Linked DNA regions of Homo sapiens. The protein of the gene in region 2 purifies or fractionates together with the protein of the main gene of each other region. This does not show direct contact. Each region holds a gene or a part of one and is shown on either strand. Other genes may lie near its edges.

Region 1 (5,147 bases), on a different chromosome or scaffold from region 2:
GTTGTGCTTCGCAGAGGGCCGTGATGGCCACACAGGTCAAGCTCATTGTTTTTTAATATCCCAAGAACAGTTAGTGAAACTTATTAGACACTTTGATTAAAGGACTGAGCTTTTGGCCGGGCATGGTGGCTCGTGCCTGTAATCCCAGCACTTTGGGAGGCCAAGGCGGGTGGATCACCTGAGGTCAGGAGTTCCAGACCAACCTGGTCAACATGGTGAAACCCTGTCTCTACTAAAAAATACAAAAATTAGCCAAGTATGGTGGCGCACACCTGTAGTCCCAGCTACTCGGGAGGCTGAGGCAAGAGAATCACTTGAACCTGGAAGCGGAGGTTGCAGTGAGCCAAGGTCGCGCCATTGCACTCCAGCCAGGGCAACAGAGCAAGAAAGAAAAAAGAAGAATTGAGTTTTGGCCAGGCGTGGTGGCTCATCCCTGTAATCCCAGCACTTGGGGAGGCTAAGGCAGGCAGATTGGTTGAGCTCAGGAGTTCAAGACCAGCCTGGGCAAGATGGCGAGACCCTGTCTCTAAAAGAAAAAGAATTGAGCTTTCCAGTGTGATGGAGCTGTCTAAACTGTGGATCCGCCAGTCGCATATATAAGTATATAGTGACCAAGCCCATTATTGCATCAAATCAACTGGCCTACTCTGTGCGCGGGAGGAATGCATCAGGGTACAGCATTTACATGAACAGAACAGTCACGGTGTTGTAAAAAAGAAAAAGACTAGAATGCAGTTCAACAAATGTTAATAGTGATTGCCTCTGGATGGCAGGACGATGGACAAATCTTTTTTGTCTATTTTTTTCTACATTTTCTATGATGAGTATGTAGTATTTTTAAATGGGAAAAAATGTATTCCAGCACACTGGGGAGGCAGAAGCAGAACAGTTTGAACCCAGGAGTTTGAGACCAGCCTGGGCAACATAGTAAGACCTCATCTCTACAAAAAGTTCAAAAAATTAGCCAGGTGTGGTGGTGTGTGCCTGTAGTCCCAGCTAATCTGGAGGCTGAGGCGGGAGGATCGCTTTAGCCTGGGAGGTCAAAGCTGCAGTGAGCTAGGATCGCACCACTGCAGTCCAGCTTGGATGACAGAGACAGACCCTGTCTCTTCTTAAAAAAAAAAAAAAATACATATATATATATATATATATATATATATATATATATATATTTCAAACAAACTTTAAGAAATTGTGCTACTCAGCCAGGTGTGGTGGCTCACACCTGTAATCCCAGCACTTTGGGAGGTCGAGGCGGGCAGATCACTTTAGGTCAGGAGTTTGAGACCAGCCCAGCCAACATGGTGAAACCCCGTTTCTACCAAAAAAAAAATACAAAAATTAGCTGGGCCTGGTGGCGCACACTACTCAGGAGGCTGGGCCGCAAGAATCGTTGAGCCCAGGAGGTGGAGGTTGCAGTGAGCTGAGATCACACCACTGCATGCCAGCCCGGGCTAGAGAGTGAGACTCTGTCTCAAAAAAGAAAAAAGAAAAAGAAAAAAAGAAATTGTGCTACTCACCACTCATCTGCAGCCCCCTGACCATGGCTGTCTCCATCAGTGCCACTGAAGTGGAGACAGCCCCGCTGAAAGCAGGCTCAGTTATCAAAGGGAGCAGAGACTGGGCGCGGTGGCTCACGCCTGTGATCCCAGCACTTTGGGAGGCCGAGGCGGGTGGATCACGAGGTCACGAGTTTGAGACCAACCTGTCTCTAGTAAAAGTACAAAAATAATCTGGGCATGGTGGCGTGCACCTGTAGTCCGAGCTACACAGAAGGCTGAAGCAGGAGAATTGCTTGAACCCAGGAGGCGGAGTTTGTGGTGAGGCGAGATCACGCCACTGCACTTTAACCTGGGCAACAAAGCGAGACTCCTTCTCAAAAAAAAGAAAAAAAAAAGCAGAAACTGGTTCAGCCTTGTTTAGAAGGGCAATTTGGAAATTTCTAAGGAAATTCTAAATGTGCAATATTTAAAATGACTCAGCACTTCCATACGCACAAAGATAGGGGTAGGGGAATATTCCCTGTGACACTGTTTGTGGTAAGAAAAGACAGACTCGGGCCCAGTTCCATCAGGGGGAATCTGGCTAAATTACAGAATTTCCGAGTGCTGGAACACTGCACAGCCATGAGAAAATAATGGCACTGGTTCAGATGTTAGCATTGTCCTGAGTGATTTCGGCAAAAAGAACTAACCCAGAATCAGGGGAGATGGCGTCTTGTCAAACTTTTTTATACAGGTAGAGAGTATAGAACTCATAAAAGCTATTTGTAAAATGATAAGTTTATTGGATTAGAAATCTAAGAACCAAGGCCAGGCGCGGTGGCTCACACCTGTAATCCCAGCACTTTGGGAGGCTGAGGTGGGCGGATCACCTGAGGTCGGGAGTTTGAGACAAGCCTGACCAACATGGAGAAACCCCGTCTCTACTAAAAATACAAAATTAGCTGGGTGTGGTGGCACATGTCTGTGAACCCAGCTACTGGGGAGGCTGAGGCAGGAGAATCACTTGAACCCGGGAGGCGGAGGTTGTAGTGAGCCAAGATCTCACCAGCAACAAGAGCAAAACTCCGTCTCAAAAAAAAAGAAATCTAAGAACCAAATATATCAGAGAATGTTAAATTTCTTGGGTATGATGATGATATTGTAGTTACATAGGGAAATATCCTTATTCTTAGGAGATACATGCTGAAATATTTAGAGCTGAAGTGCCATGTCAGCAACTTACTTTCAAAAAGTTCATTCAGCAAAAAGCCGGGTGCAGTGGCTCACACCTGTAATCCCAGCACTTTAAGGCAAGCTGATCACTTTGAGATCAGGAGTTTGAGACCAGCCTGGCCAACATGATGAAACCCTGTCTCTACTAAAAATACAAAAATTAGCCAGGCATGGTGGCACACACCTATAGTCCCAGCTATTCAGGAGGCTGAGGCAGGAGGATCACTTGAACTCAGGAAGCAGAGGGTGCAGTGAGCCAAGATCGCACCACTGCACTCTAGCCTGGGCAACAGAGCAAGACTCAATCTTAAAAAAAAAAAAAAAAAAAGATGTTAGGCCAAGCACAGTTCAAGCCTGTAATCCCAGCACTTTGGAAGGCCAAGGTGGGAGGATGGCTTGAAGTTACGAGTTTAAGACCAGCCTTGGCAACCAGCAAGACCCTGTCTCTTCAAAAAAAAAATTTTTTAATTAGCTAGGTGTGGTGGTACATGCGTGTAATCCCAGCTACTTAGGAGGCTGGGCAGGAGGATCGTTTGAGCCCAGGAGTTTAAGGCTGCAGTGAGCCATGATTGTGCCATTGCACTCCAGCCTGGACAACAACCATGTCTCTAAAAAAACAAAGGAGAGAGAGAAAAGAAAAGATTTTTGAAAGAAGCTAAAGACTTCTAAAAAAAAAGAAAAAGAAAAAGAAAAGAAAAACGATTACCAAGCACTTACTAAAGATGTTAGTTACAGGGCTGGGCACAGCAGCTCACGCCTGTAATTCCAGCACTTTGGGAGGCCAAGGCAGGAAAATTGCTTGAGCCCAGGAGTGCAAGACCAGCCTGGGCAACACAGTGAGACCCCACCTCTATTTAACAAAATGAAATCAATCAGTTTCAAAAGTTAGTCTTTATCCCTCCATACCTTCAGCCAGCCCAAACCAGGAATGGGCAGCTTGACAGCTTCAGGTTGTTGAAGGCCTGGACTCAACAAAGCTTTGCGTAGCTAGCGGGGCTGTTCTGAGCTTGGAAGCGCCGAGCAGTAACCTCTCCCTTTCCCGTGTCTTTGCTCTCCAGTTCCGAGAGGAACCCGTGCAATAGTTCGGTGCCGCGTGACCTCCGGCGGCCCGCCAGCCTCATCGGCCAGGAGGTGGTTCTCGTCTTCTTTCTCCTGCTCTTGTTGGTCTGGTTCCTGAATCGCGAATTTGAAGTCAGCTACCGCCTCCACTACCACGGAGACGTGGAAGCGGATCTTCACCGCACCAAGATCCAGAGCATGCGGGACCAGGCAGACTGGCTGCTGAGGAACATCATCCCCTACCACGTGGCTGAGCAGCTGAAGGTGTCCCAGACCTACTCCAAGAACCATGACAGCGGAGGGGTGATCTTCGCCAGCATCGTCAACTTCAGCGAGTTCTACGAGGAGAACTACGAGGGCGGCAAGGAGTGCTACCGGGTCCTCAACGAGCTCATCGGGGACTTTGACGAGCTCCTAAGCAAGCCGGACTACAGCAGCATCGAGAAGATCAAGACCATCGGAGCCACGTACATGGCGGCGTCAGGGCTGAACACCGCGCAGGCCCAGGACGGCAGCCACCCGCAGGAGCACCTGCAGATCCTGTTCGAGTTCGCCAAGGAGATGATGCGCGTGGTGGACGACTTCAACAACAACATGCTGTGGTTCAACTTCAAGCTCCGCGTCGGCTTCAACCATGGGCCCCTCACGGCCGGGGTCATCGGCACCACCAAGCTGCTGTACGACATCTGGGGAGACACCGTCAACATCGCCAGCAGGATGGACACCACCGGCGTGGAGTGCCGCATCCAGGTGAGCGAAGAGAGCTACCGCGTCTTGAGCAAGATGGGCTATGACTTCGACTACAGAGGGACCGTGAATGTCAAGGGGAAAGGCCAGATGAAGACCTACCTGTACCCAAAGTGCACGGATCACAGGGTCATCCCACAGCACCAGCTGTCCATCTCCCCAGACATCCGCGTCCAGGTGGATGGCAGCATCGGACGGTCTCCCACAGACGAGATTGCCAACCTGGTGCCTTCTGTCCAGTATGTGGACAAGACATCTCTGGGTTCTGACAGCAGCACGCAGGCCAAGGATGCCCACCTGTCCCCCAAGAGACCGTGGAAGGAGCCCGTCAAAGCCGAAGAAAGGGGTCGATTTGGCAAAGCCATAGAGAAAGACGACTGTGACGAAACAGGAATAGAAGAAGCCAACGAACTCACCAAGCTCAACGTTTCAAAGAGTGTGTGAGGCGGCGCCCACCCGCTGCCCGAGGTGCTCTGTTTGTCGAAACACAGTAATATTTGTATTTGGCTGTTGTGCTTTCCAAGCGCCACAGTTGCCCTCCCCGGACGTGGTGTTATGTGGTCATTTCAGCCCTAACTTCTGTGTGGATCACAGTTATTCAGGGTTCATTTTCATCCATTCTTC
Region 2 (5,147 bases):
TCAGCATGACTTGCCGAGTTCAATCCTGTTGTTTGTGTCTGCTGCCTGGGGTCTGCCTTGTGTCCTGGCCTGGGAAGCCCTAGCCCATGAGGGGTGCCAGGAACAGAGCAAAGCTAGAGCGGCCCCTGTGTGGTGGCCTCTTCTAGAGTCTACCATCATCCCCCAGGACTTAGGAGCACCTGATGTCTCCTCCCAGCTCCTGAGCCCACTTCCACCCCAACTCTGAGGCCCAGCCCACAATTTGCCTCTTCCCTACTGCCTAATAATTGTTACAATTGCCTCAGATGGGCGAGGGCCACTGTGGGTTTTGTGTCCACCGGTGCAACCCCTCCCTCCCTGCCCTTTCCAGGCCGCTCCTTTGAACCTGTAGGTACTCGGCCCCGAGTGGACTCCATGAGCTCTGTGGAGGAGGATGACTACGACACATTGACCGACATCGATTCCGACAAGAATGTCATTCGCACCAAGGTCTGACCCGTGGGCCTGGCCTGGTCAGGCGTTTCCTGAGAAAGGGACATTCTGCGTTCCCGCCCCAGCATGTTCCCACTGACGTGGCATTTAGGGAAGCAGAAGGAAGGGGCTCAGCTGGGGCAGGGCAGATGCCGGGGAAACTAACCTGACCTCCAACCCCTTCCGGCCTGATTGGCCAAACCCTCTTGGTCTAAGCGGCCGCAGCAGTGGGATGTCCTTGAACCCTGCCCCCCTGAATTCGGCCCTGTGTGAGGGAGGCCCCTCTTGTCCACCTCTAACCTGGGGGAGGGGGCTTCTCCCAAGTAGCAGTAAGTGGGGCTGATTCCAGCTTCTCCCCAGCAATACCTCTATGTGGCTGACCTGGCACGGAAGGACAAGCGTGTTCTGCGGAAAAAGTACCAGATCTACTTCTGGTGAGTGGGCTGAGTGTCTGGGGCTCTGCTGTTGGTGGGTGTGTGGCAGCCTTGGGTGCCACCCACCTCACTGCCGCCCTCCTGCTCCGCAGGAACATTGCCACCATTGCTGTCTTCTATGCCCTTCCTGTGGTGCAGCTGGTGATCACCTACCAGACGGTGAGAGGGCAGGGCAGGTTCACCTTTCCGACAGCCTAGGACACCGCCCCAAAGTGCAGAGCCTCCCAGCCTGGGGCCCTGGTGTTCCATCACAGGACCTGGGTTCAGATCCCAGCTCTGCCTTCCCAGCCGAGTGACCCAGGGCAAATCACATAACCCCCCCAACCCTGAGTGTCAGTTTCTTCATCTGCAAAATGGGAGCAGCCCGCACTAAAGATAGCCCCTCCCTGGTTTCTTGTGCGGATTATGAAACCAAAGTCCTGGGGCTTTGTAAGCATCAGTTTCCCTTCCCTTTTCTCTGTCCCGTGGGGCAAGAACTTCCATCACGGTCATGCCTCAGGGTTTTCAGCCACGCCTAATGAGAGGGGACAGCGACTGTGCTGCATGGCATCCATGTTCTCAGAAGGAACACGTGCCTGCGGTGCTGTGTATTCCCACCTGCTAGCTGTGGTGGCACTTGCTGTTTTTTGCCAAAGGGGCCCGGATGGCGGGGCGTGGGCTGAGTTGGGCGTGACGACAGACCCACTCCCTGTCCCTGCTCCTGCTACAGGTGGTGAATGTCACAGGGAATCAGGACATCTGCTACTACAACTTCCTCTGCGCCCACCCACTGGGCAATCTCAGGTGGGGGTCATGCTGGGAGGCCCCTTGTCCAGGCCAAGGGTGAAATGGGGCAGGGCCTGGGGCTTTGCAATGCCCACGTGGGCTAGGGAAGAGGCCTGGGTGTGAGTCCCAAGCAGTCTGCCTTGTGTTGCCCCTTCTAGCGCCTTCAACAACATCCTCAGCAACCTGGGGTACATCCTGCTGGGGCTGCTTTTCCTGCTCATCATCCTGCAACGGGAGATCAACCACAACCGGGCCCTGCTGCGCAATGACCTCTGTGCCCTGGTAAGGGAGCACCTGCCTGCCTGCCGCAGCCTCAGCTCCAGCACAGACCTCAAGCCTTGGCTCCAGGACACCCTTTTGGGCAGGCCTGGCCCTGCCTTCCCCAGCTCTCCCCTCCCCAGTTCTGTCTGGCCCACCCTATCCAGCCCAGCCTGCCCCACCCTGCCCTGCCCTCCCTTGCCAGCCTGCCCAGGCCAGCCCACCCCTGCACACCCACACTCGACACATACCCCACCCCTTTTCCTCTTCCACTCCTCTTAGGGTCCCTCTTTTGGGTCCCTTCTTCCCTTCCTGCCTCACTTCCTCCCTCCCTTCCCTTCTCTCTCTCCCCAACAGGAATGTGGGATCCCCAAACACTTTGGGCTTTTCTACGCCATGGGCACAGCCCTGATGATGGAGGGGCTGCTCAGTGCTTGCTATCATGTGTGCCCCAACTATACCAATTTCCAGTTTGGTGAGTGGGGCGTCCTTCTTTTCTGGCTCAACCTACAGCAGGGACCTGCCTGAGTCCTTCACTATCCCCAAGTCACCCACAGGGATCGCTAAGACACCCCTGTAGGAAACTCCAAGGCTGGCGTGCCTGGGTGTGCACACATCCTAGCCTATGGAACATGGGCACCTAGATGCTGCTTCATTCATCTGTCAAGCTATTCCTATGTAAAGGCATGTGCCGCAGTGAAGAAAACAGTATAATTAAGAAGGGGTCCCTGGCCGGGTGCAGTGGCTCACGCCTGTAATCCCAGCACTTTGGGAGGCCGAGGCAGATGGATCACGAGGTCAGGAGCTCCAGACCATCCTGGCTAACATGGTGAAACCCCGTCTCTACTAAAAATACAAAAAATTAGCCGGGCACAGTGGCAGGCGCCTGTAGTCCCAGCTGCTCGGGAGGCTGAGGCAGGAGAATGGCATGAATCCGGGAGGCAGAGTTTGCAATGAGCCAAGATCACGCCCTGCGCTCTAGCCTGGGCAACAGAGCGAGACTCCGTCTCAAAAAAAAAAAAAAGAAGGGGGCCCTGGCTGGGCACTGTGGCTCATGCCTGTAATCCTAGCACTTTGGGAGGCTGAGGCGGGGGGATCGCCCAAGGTGGGGAGTTTGAGATCAGCCGGGCCAACATGGTGAAACCCCATCTCTACTAAAAATGCAAAGATTAGCTGGGTGTGGTGGTGCATGCCTGTAATCTCAGCTACTCAGGGGGCTGAGGCAGGAGAATTGCTTGAGCCCAGGAAGCGGAGGTTGCAGTGAGCCGAGATCCCACCATTGCACGCCAGCCTGGGCGACAGAGTGAGACTCCGTCTCCAAAAAAATAAAAGGGAGTCCCTGATCTCAGGGTGCTCACAGACTAAGACACAGACCAAGTTGTCCCTGTTTTCAGGAGATGTCAGACTCTGGGTGACAGCCAGTGGGGTGGCAGTGTGGTGTGGCAGGTACAACTAAGGAACTGAAGTTCAAGTGCCACCCTGCCACCAGCTCACACCATGGCCGTGGTGGGGCACCAGGGCTCTCTCTTCCTCTGGGATTGTTGGGGCCAGGAGTTCTCTGCTGGGGCTTGGTGGCCATTTCTGCAGCTCCCTTCCGTGTCCCTCATCCTAGACACATCGTTCATGTACATGATCGCCGGACTCTGCATGCTGAAGCTCTACCAGAAGCGGCACCCGGACATCAACGCCAGCGCCTACAGTGCCTACGCCTGCCTGGCCATTGTCATCTTCTTCTCTGTGCTGGGCGTGGTGAGGGCCTGACCTGCTCTGCTCAGCCTGTATGATAGGAAAGGTGCACGTGCGTTCAGACACGTAGTGCACACCCTCCGCCACCTCCTGCATGAGAGATTCCTGCTCCTTCCCTGAGATGCCTTCCTGGGCCCCTCTCAGAGTCCCAGCCTGGCTGAGCAGCCAGCCCCAGGAAGGGTGGGCCATCCGAGCCACTTCCCTCTCCACCCTCACCGCTGCCCTTGGTGGCCTCCCGACAGGTCTTTGGCAAAGGGAACACGGCGTTCTGGATCGTCTTCTCCATCATTCACATCATCGCCACCCTGCTCCTCAGCACGCAGCTCTATTACATGGGCCGGTGGAAACTGGGTAAGGGCACGCCCGGGGCAGGGCCTGGGGGAGGGGTCTGGGGGGCCTTGGGAACCCGGACGCACGGGAGACGCTCAGGTTCTGTCTTGGGGGCCCTGGAGTCACTGGGTGAGGAATTAGATCAGGCCTGGGCTCCTCAGCTGGCACATCCCAGGGGTCCAGCAAAGGAGGGTGCCCCGTGCCTGTCAGCACCACTCCCTTCTCTTCGCAGACTCGGGGATCTTCCGCCGCATCCTCCACGTGCTCTACACAGACTGCATCCGGCAGTGCAGCGGGCCGCTCTACGTGGTACCTGCCTGGTTCCCCTGCTCCATTCTCCACATCTCCTTTCTTCCCTCTGATGGGGGAGTGGGGCTGGGCTGAGGACCCAGGGGAGAGTGGGGACCAGCTGGCTGGGCCTTCTTCCACCACCCTCCCTGCCCCTGCCCTCAGTCCCTGTGTCCCTGCTTCCCTCCAGGACCGCATGGTGCTGCTGGTCATGGGCAACGTCATCAACTGGTCGCTGTGAGTATGGTCAGCAGTAGTGGCCTGGTTGGGTGGACAGCTGGGGACTCGGTCAGCCACTGGCTGCCTTGGGGGCTAAGGACAACTTCCAAATGTTGGGCATAAGACATGGGGGCTAAGAGAGATCTTGGCCTCTCTTCTCTCTCTTGGCATCTGGGCTTCTAGAATCTTCTGTGGGCTTCTGAACACAGCCCAACATCATAATAAAACATGCCTAGGCAGGGCAGGAAGAGCACTTCCTTGCCCTTGGGCTTCCTGCTTCACCACCCTTCATCCCTCTTGCCAGGGCTGCCTATGGGCTTATCATGCGCCCCAATGATTTCGCTTCCTACTTGTTGGCCATTGGCATCTGCAACCTGCTCCTTTACTTCGCCTTCTACATCATCATGAAGGTGAGTGGGGCTGGCCAAGCCCCCTCTGTCAGCTGCTCTGCTATCTGGGGAGAGAGATGGGCCCGGCAGCATTGAGGGGCAGTGAGAAGTTTTCTGTCCCATCTTTGCTGGTTGCGGAGGGGAGAGGCTAAAGCCTCTTGCATGGGCCCCTGGGAGCCAACTGCAGCCCAAAGACCATTTACTGAGCCCCTTCCAAGGGCCCTTGAAACAGGTGGCATTTTAGGCTGCAGTTGTAAGTGCCCCTTTC
Region 3 (5,147 bases), on a different chromosome or scaffold from region 2:
ATTATTCCATCATAGACAAACTTGTGAATATAGTGGATGACCTTGTGGAGTGCGTGAAAGAAAACTCATCTAAGGTAACTTTGTGTTCATTGGGATTATTTTTCATTACGCTTCTCTAAAAACCCATGCTTCTTGGTGCTGTTGGGGAAAATGAGGCACCTTTATTTATGATATTTTGATTGTATAAACTTCAAATTTAAAAATCTTGTTCAGATGAGCAAAGAAAACAAGTATTTGCAGTTATACTGCAATACTGAAGTGCACATTCAAACTTAAATGTTGTCATCTAATACAAAAATAAAACTTATTTACATTACAATGCAAAATCAGTCCTGCCTTTATCTTTATTCTTCATAAGTGAAGTCCTTGAAACCTTTCTATTAAGTTACAAGTGTTCATTTAAATGGAAAATTGTCTGTAATAAACACATATCCTTTTATGCATAATGTAATCACCCCATAGGTCACAGCAAAGGAATACATTTTGGCTCCTCAAAGTCATTGGATAACTGATCATCACCAACTTCAGGATATGGGCATGACATATGGAATAGGCAATGTACTCCAGAAAATAAGAGTGAGATATTGGAGTTTAAATTCTGGCTCTGTCGCTAATGAGTTCTGTGAGCGTAACTTCTTTGTACCTCACTTTCTTTATCTTTAAAATGGGGGCAATGCCAGAATTCATCTAACAGGGTCGACGTTAGGTTATTTGCCATGAGTACTTTAACACCCTACCTAGCAAAATAAATATTAATAAAATTTGATGTTTTTTCATCACACTGTGTCTATAGCAAAATCATGCTTAGGAGACCTGATTTGGTATACAGTTCAAATGGCCAAAGATTAGCTTAGGAGACTTATGTAAGTTTAAATTCAAAGTTTTAAGCAGGATTCTGTACCTTAATACCTAAATGCTTTTTCCTGTGTCCCATCTAAATTCCAGCTATTCTGTAAGACCCAACTTCAATCCCATTTGTACTATCCTATCTTATAATTCTTACCATACTAATAATCCAATCACTACCTTTAATCTTTGTATTATTTTCTAATTTCCAAAGTCAGAATGTGGTGTTAACCACTCTTTCATATTACTACTGCATATAGTGTGCCAATGGCATTCAAAAGAAGTAGAGATCACAAAAAGTAGAGTGCATCACACAAGGTGTCACAAAGGAAATAACATGTGCATTAGAGCCTTAAAGATGAGTTAGGTAAATGAGTTAGGTCAATGGTGATGTTGGGAAGAACACTGCAAACAACAAAGAATGTGCATTTACTAATCATGGCACTTTGGTGGGAACCCAGGAGATTACCAATTATATTTCTCAGTTGTTTTGGAGATTGAGTTACTGTATATAAAGCACTTAGAATAGTCCATAGTAAGTAACAGATAGTTGTTTATTTTGGTTACCTACTTTTCTTTATAATCCATTATGTATCCCTACAACATAGCTTTGATTTGCTTTGGGGAATTTTATATTAATTTTATATCAATTAATCATACCATTTTTATTATTTTGGGACTTGCCTCTTTCACTCAGCTTTAGGTTTAGAAGATGTATCCACTTTAAAGCATATAGCTGTAGTTAACCTTCTCTTGAATTGAACTCCACTAATTCAATATATCACTAGTTATTAAGCCACTCTGTCTGGATTGACATAAGTGATACAGATATTGCTGCAAAAAAACTTTTTTATATGTCTGATGGTATATATGTGCAATAGTTTCAGTAGGTTATTTACCTGAGAATGGAATTTCTGAGTCACAGGATGGTCACATGTCTAACTTTACTGGATAATATCAAATGTACCAACTTACATTATCTCAGCAGTATGTAAGAGTTCCCTTGCCAATATTTAGTATCATCTGACTTTCTAATTTTTGGATATTAGAGCATGCATTATGGTGTGGTTTTTTTTTTTTTTTTCTAAAGACTGGAAGTTCTTGTAATGGAGGGGTCTTTTAAAAATAAACCCTCATGTTTTTAATGAGCATCTCTAAAGAAAAATATCCCCAGCTTGTTTTTAAGGTTATTTATTTTATTTTATTTTTTGCCATGACATTGTGTTCACTGCCCCAGATTCAACTTGTGATCCCACTGGGATCACTACCCTGCATTACCAATCTGAATTACATACGTTAAAACAGCCATCTAAAAGTGCTAGTTGTAAGAGTCTAAATACTTGAATCTTTGAGAGACATATTTATAGTCCATTATCTTCACCTCAGTTAAGTCTGAAGACTATTTGAAAAATGTAATCCTATTTTTTCTTCTAGGATCTAAAAAAATCATTCAAGAGCCCAGAACCCAGGCTCTTTACTCCTGAAGAATTCTTTAGAATTTTTAATAGATCCATTGATGCCTTCAAGGACTTTGTAGTGGCATCTGAAACTAGTGATTGTGTGGTTTCTTCAACATTAAGTCCTGAGAAAGGTAAGACATGTAAGCATTTCCAGTTCAAATGTAAACAACAAACTTAAATCTTCCCTATGTAGTAAGAATCTACCTCTGTGTTAAGCTGTAGCAAGATACATGCATGTACGTCTAATAAAAAAGCAGATATCAATAGCACAGAAGAAACTAATGATTGTAGATTTGTGGGTTTCTAACCCAAAGCAATATTCATCAGTTTCAAATTAGTGAGCTGTTTGTGAGTAAACAATATATGAGATGGCCACTCATACCTTTTCTCATCTAATATTTGCCAGTAATTACAATTATATTATTCTGTACCTCCAGTCTACTTAATGGTCCTTCTCAAATTTTTTCTTAAGGATCTAACTCTAAGTCACAAATTCTGATCCTCCCCAGTTACTCTGTATTAAGACTCTTTTTTCCCTTCACTGGGTCCCTATAATACAAACCTGGATTCATTGCTTTCTTTTTTTAATGAGAAATTACCATCAATGTGTCATTATTTGTATTTATTAACATATTTATTCAATAAGTATTTGTTCTACAAGGTGATAATGGTGGATTTCTTAGTAAAATAGAATAGCAGGACCCAGTATGAAATAAATAGGATCTGAATACTCTAGATTTGGGAAGCAGACCTGGCAAGTAATCTGGTATTGCACTTCACCTTTCAGGGACTCTATAACTCATACAAATCACCATATAACACTGACACATTATTGCTTTCTATTTAGATTCCAGAGTCAGTGTCACAAAACCATTTATGTTACCCCCTGTTGCAGCCAGCTCCCTTAGGAATGACAGCAGTAGCAGTAATAGTAAGTACATATATCTGATTTAATGCATGCATGGCTCCAATTAGCACCTATAGGAGTATTGCATGGGCTTTCAAGGAAACTTCTACATTTATTATTATTGATACTGTTCTGTTACTGTTATTCCTTTTATGGTCTTCTTGAGACTTAAGTTTGTAGAATTAAATTTCCCTAGAGCTGGAGATAATGTTTAGAGAATTAGGCCAATAAATTTTCTGCTGAGGTTATTTTAAATAAGACATAAAATTAATTTTAGAAATATGATTTATGCCTTTTGTTGAATCATTAACATATATTCTGTGTGGAATGTGTCTGACAAAAACGGAAGTTTAAAATTAAGTGTATAAATGCTGGTTGTTAACATATATTCTGTGTGGAATGTGTCTGACAAAAACGGAAGTTTAATTGTATAAATGCTGGTTGTATAGAATTCCAAAGATATTTTCAGATTTGTGTATATCAGTATTTACTATTGCGCATTTGGAAATTTGATGATTTTGTTATTTTACCACAGAATTATATGCTTGATGAGAATAGGCTTATTTTTCTGAAATTTCTGTCCTCTTTTGCCAAGAACCCAATTTTCTTTGAAAATCCAGACAAAGGTCATTATAAAGTTTATTGTATTTACTAAATACTCTCTAGCCTCATGGAAGGTGCAGGAAGAATAAAAACCATCTTGTGATCTAGGCTAAAAAAGTCATCCCTTAGGACTTATAAATGGGGCACTGTCATTTGTTCAGGGACTTAGAAGACCTATCTGTGAAAAGAAGTAATCAATTTATTACTAATTCATAATAGCTTGTTACAATGCAGAACATTTAAAAAAACTCTAAAATACAATTTACTTATTTTGGAATTTTTTGCCACCAAAACCTGACCTGAAGTGATTTGAGGCTATTTATAGTCTATTTATCTTTCTAAAAGTGAATATATATTTTACTAATGAAATATTAATGTATTTGATTACAGAATGCTACCCAGGATTCACTGGGGATAGTATATGTTATACATTATGTGCAGGACAGAATCTTCTGAAACCTAAAATTCTAAATTACGTAGCATATCAGTTCTAAAATGTGTCAAAAAGGGACTAGAGCCCTGTTTGTGTGTTAGTCAATTAAGGGTTTTCTTACCAACTATGGATTTTATTAACATTTTCAAAGGAGCAACTTTTGTCTTCTTAAATTCTCTGCTTATATTTCATTGATTTCTAATCTTTATTATTTCCTTCCATTTGCTTTGTGTTTCATTTACTCCACTTTTTCTAGCTTTTCGAAGTGGAAAAATTAGATCATTGATTTTAAACTATTTTTGCTAATTACAAGCACTTAAAGGTATAAATTTTCTTAAATACACTGCTTTAGCTGCACCTCACACATTTTTGTGTTGTGATTTTATTATTTTTCTAAATATTTGTCAACTGTGATTTCTTCTTTGATTCATGGATAATATAAAAGTGCGTTGTTTGATGTCAAAAAGTTTGAGATTTTCCTATATATCTTATTGTTACTAGTCTATGAATTTTGTTGTCAGAAAACATACTCTATAATTTTTTTGAAATGTACTGAAACTATTTTATGTATGTTATTTAACTGTTGAATGCAGCATTCAAATTTGGCCAAAATGGTTGATAGTGTTGTTTATATCTTCCCTTCCTTATTAAGCTTTTTGTCTAATTTTTATTAATTATTGAGAAAAGGGAATTGAAAATATTAACTTTTGATTGTGGATTTGTCTGATTTTCCATTTGGTTTTGGGTTTTTTGCTTCATATATTTTAAAGCTTTATTATTATGGGCTTATACATTGATTATTGTTAGATCTTCCCTGTTTAATTGACCTTTTAATCTTACTGAAATATCCCTCATTATCTCTGATAGTGCTTTTTGTCTTGAAGTTTATTTTGTCTGA
Region 4 (4,555 bases), on a different chromosome or scaffold from region 2:
CTTGTGGTGCCAAGGACTAGCCTTCTTCTCTCCTGCTTATGCTGCCTCGGGAGGTCAGTGGGACTCAAGGGCAGTGAGGTGGGGGCAACGGTCAGTGGTCACATGACAAGCAGCCATGCATTGGGCCCTACATAATCATCTCATTTAATCCTCCCCAACAAGCTGCATGCTAGGGCCAGCAGCCTCCTTTTACAAGTGAAGAAATTCAGGCTCTCTAGGTTAAGAGTCTTGTAGCTGGGTGCAGTGGCTCACGCCTGTAATCCCAGCACTTTGGGAGGCCAAGGTGGATGGATCGTTGAGGTCAGGAGTTCCAGACCAGCCTGGCCAACATGGCGAAACCCCATCTCTACTAAAAATACAAAAACTAGCGGAGTATGGTGGTGCACGCCTATAATCCCAGCTACCTGGGAGGCTGAGGCGGGAGGATTGCTTAAACCTTGGAGGCAGAAATTATAGTGAGCTGAGATCGCGCCATTGCACTCCAGCCTGGGTGACAGAGCAAGACCCTGTCTCAAAAAAAAAAAAAAAAAAAAAAGGCCGGGGCAGTGGCTCACGGGTGTAATCCCAGCACTTTGGGAGAGGCTGAGGTGGGTGGATCACCTGAAGTTAGGAGTTTAAGACCAGCCTGGCCAATGTGGTGAAACCCTGTCTCTACTAAAAATACAAAAATTAGCCAGGTGTGGTGGCAGGCGCCTGTAATCTCAGCTACTCAGGAGGCTCAGGCAGGAGAATCACTTGAACCCAGGAATCACTGAATCACTGAGCCGAGATCGCACCACTGCACTCCAGCCTAGGTGACAGAGCGAGACTCTGTCTCAAAAAAAAAAAGAGTCTTGCACAAATTCATGTGGCACCAGGATTCACTCCCAAGTCTGCCCCCTCCAGGACCACAGCACTCTGCCTCTTTCCAGTGAGGGCCTAAGAGGCAGCCCGCTGAGGCTGGGGGAGCCAGGAAGGATGTGGTGGAAGGGCAGCAGGAGGATCAGGTGCTCAGAGGATCAGGCCTGGGATCCAGGAGGGGCTATTGCCTGGCAGAAAGCGATGGCACCAGCAGACGCTGAGGAGGCTGCTTTGCTTTCACAGGGGTGCTGGGCCTAAACCTACAGCCAGAGCAGCCCCATGGGCTCTACCTTCTGCCCCCTGGGGCCCCCTTTATCGAGCTGCTCCCAGTCAAGGAAGGCACCCAGGAGGAAGCTGCCTCCACCCTCCTTTTGGCCGAGGCCCAGCAGGGCAAGGAGTATGAGCTGGTGCTGACGGACCGCGCCAGCCTCACCAGGTGATCAGCTGCACAGCCCCTGCTACCTGGGGCCCTATGGGACCGTGCTGGGGGCCTGGGGCATGAGCTCAGAAGACCTTGGGCCCGACCTCACTCCCACTTGCACCCCATCAGGTGCCGCCTGGGTGATGTGGTGCGAGTGGTTGGTGCCTACAATCAGTGTCCAGTCGTCAGGTTCATCTGCAGGTAGGTGACCCCGGGGAGCTGAAGGGCCATCCTTGTGTCCTGGGCTCCACTGCCTCTCCCTTCCTCCTCTTCAGGCTGGACCAGACCCTGAGTGTGCGAGGGGAAGATATTGGTGAAGACCTGTTCTCTGAGGCCCTGGGCCGGGCAGTGGGGCAGTGGGCGGGGGCCAAGCTGCTGGACCATGGCTGTGTGGAGAGCAGCATTCTGGGTGAGCCTCCCCACCGGCTCCTGCCTACCATCCTTGAGCTACCCTTCAACTCCTACCTCCCCTGCCAGGGGACTGCTAGGAAAGAGATAAGCCTCCTTTACTACTCCTACAAAAGTCCTTCTCTGCATCTAACTCTCATCCATCCTGCTGCAGTCTCTACCCATTTTCTTTCCTGATCTGTCTCCTATTTAGGATCAAGCTCTAGGTTCCTCTCCATTTACCCCACTCCCCACCAAGAAACTCTTTTTTCCCTATGAATCTCAGAGTGGGGAAGAACAGATAGGGCAGAGGACACTAGACTTGGCAGCTGCCCATTCACCGGAAGTATGTGTGCACATGGGGTCTATTCACAGATTCCTCTGCGGGCTCTGCTCCCCACTACGAGGTGTTTGTGGCGCTGAGGGGGCTGAGGAATCTGTCAGAGGAAAATCGAGACAAGGTAAAGGAGACGAGGACAGGGTCTGACTGTAGACCCCTTCACTCTGCACACTCCCAGGGTGCCATGGAGATCAGGGCTGATGGGAAGGAGAGGGGTGGCGGAGGAGAAGCTCCCTGGGGCTCTGGGAGGGGAGGGCTAAGTCCCACAGACACACACCTGTCCACACAAAACTTCTAAACACATGTAGCCTGGGCACAGCCACACACGCCTCGTGTGCACACTCACAGTCACACACCAGCTCACTCAGGCTGTTCTGTTCCCAGCTGGACCACTGCCTTCAGGAAGCCTCTCCCCGCTACAAGTCCCTGCGGTTCTGGGGCAGCGTGGGCCCTGCCAGAGTCCACCTGGTGGGGCAGGGAGCCTTCCGAGCACTCCGGGCAGCCCTCGCTGCCTGCCCCTCCTCCCCCTTCCCCCCTGCGATGCCCCGGGTCCTTCGGCACAGGCACCTGGCCCAGTGTCTGCAGGAGAGGGTGGTGTCCTGAGTCAAGTCCTGCCCCACCGCCCAGCTCCCCCCAGAGGCCACCTCGCCCCTCCCTCTGGGACCTCTCCGGATGGGGAGTCCTTGGCCAGGGTCTCTGACTCTGTGTCACCTGACATTTGCCCATGAGAGCCGCTGGGCCTTAGAGAGGCCTTGGCCCAGCTGACCGGTTCTGAAGTATGGGCCTCCGGGGTTAGCAGATGCCAGCAGTGCCTGCCCGTGTCCCCATGTCCCGGCATGAAGGACACTGCTAGAGAGTTACCATGCACACCGATGGTTTCCTGTATCACAGCCCAAAGAGGTTCTCTGGTGGCCACAGCTGTGTGCTCAGTCAGTGCACTGGGCAAGCTAGAAGTGTTGGGGGGTTAATGTCCCCAGGAGCAGCAACCCTGAGTCAATAAGGAGCAGGACCTCAGCTTCATTGTCCTTGAGCAGGACAATTCTGAAGTGTATTCTACATAAACTCTCAGAGGATGCCCAGCAGGATGGAGTCCCAGTTGCCCGCAGCAGTAACCCACTCATTCATGTACTTCCTGCGGGGGCTCTCCCTTCCCTCTCTTCCCCACTCCCCCGCCTTGGGCTTCCTGGGATGGCTCCCAAATAAACCTCTTGCACCCAGATTCTTGCCTCAGGGTCTGCTTTGGGGAAACGGGAGTGGACCCCGGCCCAGCCATTCCCCCACTGAGCTCCAGGACTTTCCCCCAACATTCTGCTCTGGGCCTGGCAAGGCTGCATGCGCACACAGGAGCCTTGGAGGACTCGTGGCACATCCTAGGCCAGCACCCACAAACCACTTCTGCGGTGGGGAAGGGAGAGCTATTACTTCACATCATAAGGCATCGCCGCAGGAAGCAACTCCGGAGACCATCTGGGTTCACTGTTCCATACTAATGAGGAAACGCAGCCTCCACAAGGTTGTAGAGGCTAAAATAAAAGAAAGAAAGAAACTGGGCTAGATTTTGGCTTCCTTCCCTCCCACTGCCTGGACTGGAGTTTTAAGGTTTTCCATCTTGGAGGCTGATGGGAGGGGCAGACCTCAGCTCCTCCTCAGTAGAGGCAGCACTGGATCCAGATGCCTCTGAATAGCTTCTCCATTCCATGTCCCACACCCAGGTCCTGGCTGCATACCCACCCGGCCCCCACCTCCGCCTGTCACTCCATCCTGTTAAAATCTTCCTGTGAAGCTGGGCACAGTGGCATGGGCCTATAGTCCCAGCTACTCAAGAGGCTGCGGTGGAAGGATGGTTCATGCCCAGGAGTTCAAGACCAGCCTGGGCAACACAGCGAGACCATCTCGGGAAAAAAAAACAAAAAAAAAAACCTCCCATGGTGGCCCCCATCGCCCACAGGATTAAGACCAATCAATTTGGCCTATTAGACCCTTTGACCTTGGCCCTCACCTACATGTGCAGCTACCTCTCTCCCCTTGCTTGAAAGAAGGCCTGGACTAAGGACCACGCCTCACCTCCCATCTAAGGGTTGTTAAGCACTGTCAACTCCAGGAGTTTGCTCAAGTTGTCCCTTCTATGTAATGCCCTCTATCCCGCTGCCCCTGATGTAAACTAGCTTTCATGCAAGGCCTTTGAGGACCCCCTACCAGGCCCACCCCAGGCAGAGTGACTGGCTCAGCTTTGCTCATGTGGGCAGTAGTCCTCTCCTTCACTGAACTATCATTATGCCTGAACTGCCTCCCACCTGGAATATGAGTTCCTTGGAAACTGGGCTAGATCCTGTGCACAATTGCCCCCATGCCCAGTGCCTGGTGTGGCATGCAGCAGGAGCTCAATAAAGAGGTTGTAGGCCAGGTGCCATGGCTCATGCCTGTAATCCCAGCACTTTAGGAGGTCGAGGCAGTCAGATCACCTGAGGTCAGGAGTTCAAGACCAGCCTGGCCAACATGGTGAAACTGTGTTTCTACTAAAAATACAAAAAATTAGCTGGGCATGGTGGTGTGCACCTGTAAACCCA

The links. Proteins that work in one complex are often made in the same cells at the same time.
Region 1: the proteins of SIDT2 (region 2) and ADCY9 purify together in Homo sapiens (affinity purification with mass spectrometry; one large-scale study listed by BioGRID and IntAct). This does not show direct contact.
Region 3: the proteins of SIDT2 (region 2) and KITLG purify together in Homo sapiens (affinity purification with mass spectrometry; one large-scale study listed by BioGRID and IntAct). This does not show direct contact.
Region 4: the proteins of SIDT2 (region 2) and GHDC purify together in Homo sapiens (affinity purification with mass spectrometry; one large-scale study listed by BioGRID and IntAct). This does not show direct contact.

Annotation. Positions count from the first base shown.
Region 1 is NC_000016.10:3,965,595-3,970,741, reverse strand, and holds part of ADCY9 (adenylate cyclase type 9), read left to right. Parts: intron 1-3,775; coding exon 3,776-4,967; 3' UTR 4,968-5,147. UniProt on the Homo sapiens protein: Adenylyl cyclase that catalyzes the formation of the signaling molecule cAMP in response to activation of G protein-coupled receptors.
Region 2 is NC_000011.10:117,188,359-117,193,505, forward strand, and holds part of SIDT2 (SID1 transmembrane family member 2 precursor), read left to right. Parts: intron 1-349; coding exon 350-468; intron 469-810; coding exon 811-884; intron 885-976; coding exon 977-1,043; intron 1,044-1,593; coding exon 1,594-1,667; intron 1,668-1,807; coding exon 1,808-1,931; intron 1,932-2,264; coding exon 2,265-2,382; intron 2,383-3,519; coding exon 3,520-3,656; intron 3,657-3,895; coding exon 3,896-4,004; intron 4,005-4,215; coding exon 4,216-4,292; intron 4,293-4,461; coding exon 4,462-4,508; intron 4,509-4,794; coding exon 4,795-4,900; intron 4,901-5,147.
Region 3 is NC_000012.12:88,513,624-88,518,770, reverse strand, and holds part of KITLG (kit ligand isoform b precursor), read left to right. Parts: coding exon 1-74; intron 75-2,280; coding exon 2,281-2,437; intron 2,438-3,153; coding exon 3,154-3,237; intron 3,238-5,147. UniProt on the Homo sapiens protein: Ligand for the receptor-type protein-tyrosine kinase KIT. Plays an essential role in the regulation of cell survival and proliferation, hematopoiesis, stem cell maintenance, gametogenesis, mast cell development, migration and function, and in melanogenesis.
Region 4 is NC_000017.11:42,187,739-42,192,293, reverse strand, and holds the end of GHDC (GH3 domain-containing protein isoform 1 precursor), read left to right. Parts: coding exon 1-53; intron 54-1,083; coding exon 1,084-1,276; intron 1,277-1,390; coding exon 1,391-1,462; intron 1,463-1,536; coding exon 1,537-1,670; intron 1,671-1,934; coding exon of another isoform or gene 1,935-2,023; coding exon 2,024-2,109; intron 2,110-2,372; coding exon 2,373-2,591; 3' UTR 2,592-3,207; downstream 3,208-4,555.